Regions from separate parts of the Homo sapiens genome. Here region 2 is linked to region 1. The links come from fine-mapping of genetic effects on gene expression. A gene starts in region 1. The other region holds a variant in brackets. All regions are shown on one strand. Distances are between the middles of the regions.

Region 1 (2,913 bases):
ACTTGATCACTACAGGCTTAGATGCACAAGACTGCAGGATAACATCTTAACATTGTGTTTGATCCCAGGTGCTTCAAATTTGCCATCTTATACTCAGCCACGTTACTAATGTCTTCTGCAGTCACGTGAGCTAGGCGATAAACATCTTGCCGTTTCAATATTTTGGAAAGCCACAGCTCAGTCCTGAATGCCAGGCTATAAATCCTTAAGCTATGAGTTTTCAAAACCAGCATGGTTTTAGTGCTGCCACAAGGCTCACCCTAATAGAATCTCATCATTCAGTTTTAATTAAAGAGGTGGTTACCAGGAATGCAGAAAGGGAAAGTTTTAGTGTGTTCATCACTTTTAACCTGCTGAGTGGCAACCCAGTCACTTTACAACGAGATTCAGAAACAATAGTGTAATCTGAAACAATCCACACCCGTTGGAATAAGTGGTTGCTTTTAGAGAGAGTGAGGTTCAGGCAGAGGTTATAGATTAGTCTTGCTCCCACCAAATACATAGTTTGCATTTTTTTCATTCATTAGCTTATCCTCTGCTTTTTCATAATATCTTGGTTTCCAGTCTTGCCTCATTCAACAATAAAAAGAGACGAAAATCCATTCACTTGGTTTCATGGAGTTTTTCCATCATACCTTCTTGAAGATTGATTGCCTGGCTGTTCCCTTGAAGTAATCGCCTAAGAATTACGTCTTGGATAGCCCAACTCCCGCATTAAACTTACTGCAGGTGTCTGAAGAGGTCCAAAGACCATACTGAGTGACATCCCTGCCCAAGTGATAGTCTGAAGAAACTTGTCAGAAATGCACCCCCAGAACAAAAAGGGATGTGGGAAACTGACCTAGCACGGATGAGGACTGGGAATGAGCCTGTGACTTAGGGAATGAATTTCAGCCCAAGCAAAAATAGGAAACACCAGCCTCTAAGACGGCCTGTGGTCCTTACCGTACACCCGGACCCAGCTCTGTTGCTGGCACACGGACTCCAGAAGGATCCGATCCAACATGCCACCGGCGACGGCTCCACTGACTGGGACAACCGCGTCCAGGTCCTCCGGGGGCAGCGGCGAGTCGGACTCCAGCGCCGGGAACATCTCCGGCCAGGACAGCGCCTCCGCGGCTCCTCCGGACGACGGAGAGAGCTCCATGGTGCCCCGAGGCGGGAGGGGGACGAGGCGGCGGCTTCGGGGCGGGCTGGCGCGCGGCTCCGCGCCCTGCCTGCGGTAAGGGGAGGAGGAGAGCGCGCAGCGAGGGCAGGGACCCGAGCGGCAGCCGGCGCGGACACCTCTCACCTCCTTCCCCGTCGCCCACTGCCCGAGGCTCGGGCGATGCAGCCCACCTGCAGTCGGCGGGCGGGACCCAGGCCGGGAGGAGGATCCAGCGTGGCCCCGACCAAGGGTGGGTCCGGGCTCAGGTGTGTGTGGGTCCCTCCCGGGAGAGGACGCAGAAGAACCCGGGAGGGGAGGCTCGCCCTCCCACCTCCTCGGAGCCGCCTTCTTCAGCCCCGCCGGCGTCTCTCGCGGTCAGACCAGGCTCTGGCTGGGGATGGAGCGGGGCCGGGCAGGGCTGGGCTTGGGGGCGTCGCCGCCAGGGGCCGCCCCCTCTGACCGGCTCCCGCCGCCGCCGCCTCAGAAGCTCCGAGTGCCCGTTCCCTCAGCCTGAGGAGGGGTAGGGGGCGGTGGCCCCGGGTTCTAGCCCGCCTGTCCTCGGCCCCCACTTCTGGAATGAGCCTGCCCGCCCCCTGACTCTCAGGCCACAGCTCCGGCCACAGCTCTGGCTCCTGCTCCGCGGCGGATCCCACAAACCCGGCAGCCACGGCGGTGGCGGTGGCGGTGGCGGTGGCGGTGGCGGCGGCGGCGGCGGCGGCAGCGGCAGGCGGCATCCCAGGGTGATAGGCTGAAGCAATCGAGGGCCGAGAGCCCGGCCGCGTGTGCACTCGAGTAACGAAGCCGGGGAGGGACTGCGCCGCAGGCAGGAAAAGTCGGACACCGAATTATTCATCCGGCCTGTCCCGCCTACTTTCCAAGTACCCTCCCAGGGATAGCCGGGTATTGAGCGGTCCGGGTCTCTGCTGCTCAAAGTAAAGACCGTTTGAGAAGGCGGGGAGGTAAAAGGGTGCGGGAAATTTAAACAGAAAAGAAAGGAGCTTCCCTTCCTTCTCACACCTTTCCTATTTATTTGTTTCTTTCTTTCTTTATGGGCCAACGTTTCTTTCTTATTGGACAAAGAGATCGAAGAAGCTGCTTTATCTTACAGTCACCCAAGGGGGAGCGCCTTCTTCCTTCCCAGAGTGGAGTGGCAGTGGGTCCGGGATTCTGGGATATGCACAGGGTCTGCGCCCTGCGCCCTGTCCGCGCTGAAGCTGAACTTGTCATTGGTTTGCAACAGCATGGTGAAGAAGTGTGGTGTGGATGGACGGACGGGCCTCTCAGGCACATGAAATACTCAAAGCCCAGTATTAACCAAACATGTTTCTCTGTTTTGTCTTTGATCTTTGTGCAGTGTGTTGGCTTTTTTCCTTTAATGATGTCACTTGTATTTTATTTTTGGTTTATTTGTAGACTGTCTCCCTCCTTGGCCATGGCTTTACTTTTATGTCCACCCAAGGAGAGTTTCACCAGTTTAGGTTTAAGAAATTACTGACAAGTTAACAATAATAATTTCAAAATTGAACAGTAATAACTTAAACCGTGCCTTGGACATAGTAGATCTCCAACAGTTTTTCTTGAATGTGGCTACCTAATGTGGAACAAGATTTTTCATAATTACATGTTGCTATTTTTAATACCTTTTGGGAGGTTCTTTAGTCCCCCCCGCCCTTTCTCCCTACGTTGCACAAAGAGACTGGTCTACAAGGGGTCCTGTTAGTTTTCTGGTTTTGTGGGGTCCTGGAATATTGTTTGGGCTTATTGAG
Region 2 (2,913 bases), 180 kb before region 1:
ATAACAGACACTACACTGTGTTGCATTGGTGAGACTGTAACACTATTAATATTTACTGCCTTCCAGAGAAAGCTTTATAAAGGGATTCTACAGAGAGAATCTTCCCAGTTAATACAAACTCTAATGTTTCATTCAGTCTCAGGGGCCTTTCATCTATCTTAGTGCCAACCTAAAAAAAGAAATAACAACAGCATAGTTTTGGGAAATCTATCTGAATAGGGAAGGTCTTAATACACTAAAAGAGAAACATATTCCCAACAGATAATTGGTGTAAACTGCAGAAGTCTGAACTGTTGTGGAAGGATAGATCTGTATTTTCCTGTATCTATACATACATTTTCATTTCCACACCACAGCTAACCTGGCTTAGAAATGGCAAATTCTTCGCAACTCTGAAATTTCAATGACCAGATTTGTTTTGGCTTTGAACCCAAAGTCAAAAAGTATTACTTCATAAAAGCTAAGAATTAAAGTGATCACTTTATTACAGAAGCAAAAACATCTGGCCAGGAACGGTGGCTCACGCCTATAATCCCAGCACTTTGGGAGGCCAAGGTGGGTGGATCACTTGAACTCAGAAGTTTGAGGCTAGCCTGGTCAACACAGTGAGACCTCATCTCTACAAAAAATACAAAAATCAGCCAGGCATGGTGGTGCGTGCCTGTAGTCCCAGCTACTTGGGAAGCTGAGGTGGGAGGATTGCATTTTTTCTTTTCATCAACATGTTCACAACAGTTTTAACAGGCATTCATGTTTAATATCATATTAATAGGCCAATTAACAAGTTTTTGGTTTTTTTTTTTTTTTTTTTTTTTGAGAGGGAATCTCACTCTGTCGCCCAGGCTGGAGTGCAGTGGCGCGATCTCAGCTCACGGCAAGCTCTGCCTCGCAGGTTCACGCCATTCTCCTGCCTCAGCCTCCCGAGTAGCTGAGACTACAGGCGACCGCCACCACACCTGGCTAATTTTTTCTATTTTTAGTAGAGATGGGGTTTTACCGTGTTAGCCAGGATGATCTAAATCTCCTGACCTTGTGATCCGCCAGCCTCGGCCTCCCAAAGTGCTGGGATTACAGGCATGAGCCACTGTGCCCGGCCAACAAGCTATTTTTTAAAAGGCAGTTCTTTATTTTTTTAATAAACAATAAAATCCTTGCCCCTGACATGCAGATTTAAAAATATGGCATACACATGGCTATCTTCTATAGACAATTTCTGATATAATAGAAGAAATAATGTTAGAGTTGTTACGTGGAGATGATTCTTAACAATGTCAATAACTGTAACAGGCTGGGCACAGTGGCTCATGCCTGTAACCCCAGCAGTTTGGGAGGCTAAGGCAGGAGGATCACTTGAGCCCAGGAAGTCAAGGCTGCAGTGGGCCATGATCACACCACTGTACTCTGCCTGGGCAACAGAATAACACCTTGTCTCAAAAAAAAAAACAAAAAAATTGTAATGTGGTTGAGGAGTAGT[C/T]CACAATATACTGCAGATTTATGCTCAAATTATTTTATAAATGTATTAATGTTGTCTGCTTAAGACCTAGTGTAGTTCCCATCAACTAAGTCACTCTCTTTCATTCTTAAAGTACAAAAGGAAAGGAAAATCCAGTCAGGTCACTTAAAGTAAAGTTTAATTTTACTTATTTTATCCCTTCATTACCTTCCCACCCTCTATATTCTGTCAAAATGTCAGAAAATAACATTTCCAGAACAACAAACAAAAATTTTCTTAGACTGATAACCACCCAACACACAGTACCTGTGAACTTTGCTTTGTCCTGACACACAATGAACATTTGGGCTGGCAAATTATATTATAGTTCATACAAATAAATGGCCTCAGTGGATTTAAATATGGCCACCCTCGTACCTTGATGAGTAATATGGATACTAAGTAATCATTCAATATGTTTAAGATATAGTCATTAGGTCAGAAATGGTTGCCTTCATGGAAATACAAGTCTTAATCCTTACATTACCATAAATTTACTATGAGACCACAACTATTTGCCGAAATAAATTTATATTGTGTCTTTTAACCTTAGCTAACCACTTTAGTTTCCTTGTCAACTACAAAGGCTTAATTTCCGACCTACTTGATCACTGGTGTCTAGTTAGTAAATCCACTATGCTCATTATCACCCTTGTTAAGAGAAGGAGAGAGCAGGAAAGAGATAACATGTGATACTTCTCTCTGGTGAGTAATTTCCTTTAGTCTAACATTTGCAGAGTTCTGCTGCTGCTTCCCTCTCAGTCTCAGCTGCATCACAGTTCAGCATGAATGTTCTAACTCTGCTCTATCACAGGTCAGAGTGAGTTATCTGGTAAAAAAGTAATAAATTCCTTGAAGGCATGACTTATTTATGGCAGACAACTTGATATTTGATAAAGGTAACACTTCTCTATAGAAGAGCTCATTTTAGTTTGGTGCCATTACTTATTTTAAGAAGATGGTAAGGATGGGGAACAATTCCTATGATAGTTCTACCTTGCTTCTCCCTTCCACATCACTACAACAGTTTGCACTGTCCTGATCACATGTGCCGTGAAATGCAAACAAAGCAGATCATATAGTTTTCTTCCACTTCTTAAATATGCACTTGAAGAAATAAGTCCTGCTGGGATATCAGGGCATGCCTCTATAGTCCCAGCTACTTGGGAGCTGAGATCACTTGAGCTCAGAAGATCAAAGCTGTAGGGTGCATGACTGTGCTCTCAATAGCCACTGCATTCAAACCGGGGCAACACAGCACAACCCAGTCTCTTAAAAGAGGTAAGTCCCTTAATTTCCACATTAAGCCAAGTCTGCTTAAGCAACTATGTGGCCTAGTTAACTGAATGGAGTCTTATGAATGGTGCCAGCAGTAAGATGAGAAATGGCAGTCCATCACAGCCTGTTCTTCAATCCCAATA

What was found. PIP is the estimated chance that this variant, and not a neighbour inherited with it, causes the effect.
Region 2: its variant is the best candidate, but not a certain one, in a credible set for the expression of RASAL2-AS1 in thyroid (GTEx, PIP 0.69).

The regions. Positions count from the first base shown.
Region 1 is chr1:178,092,727-178,095,639 of GRCh38, reverse strand. RASAL2-AS1 (RASAL2 antisense RNA 1) reads left to right here and starts at 1,647. Exons shown (of 2, transcript NR_027982.1): 1 at 1,647-2,079; 2 at 2,228-2,913. RASAL2 (RAS protein activator like 2) reads right to left here and starts at 1,536. Exons shown (of 18, transcript NM_170692.4): 1 at 946-1,536. The coding sequence starts at 1,147. RefSeq lists silencers at 1,098-1,157, 1,308-1,467, 1,538-1,837, 1,888-1,937 and an enhancer at 1,559-2,060.
Region 2 is chr1:178,275,050-178,277,962 of GRCh38, reverse strand. The region is part of intron 1 of RASAL2 (RAS protein activator like 2); the gene reads right to left. Among named protein-coding and RNA genes, the nearest start is that of RASAL2, 180 kb to the right of the region's middle. The variant C/T (reference allele first, on the strand shown) is at 1,475.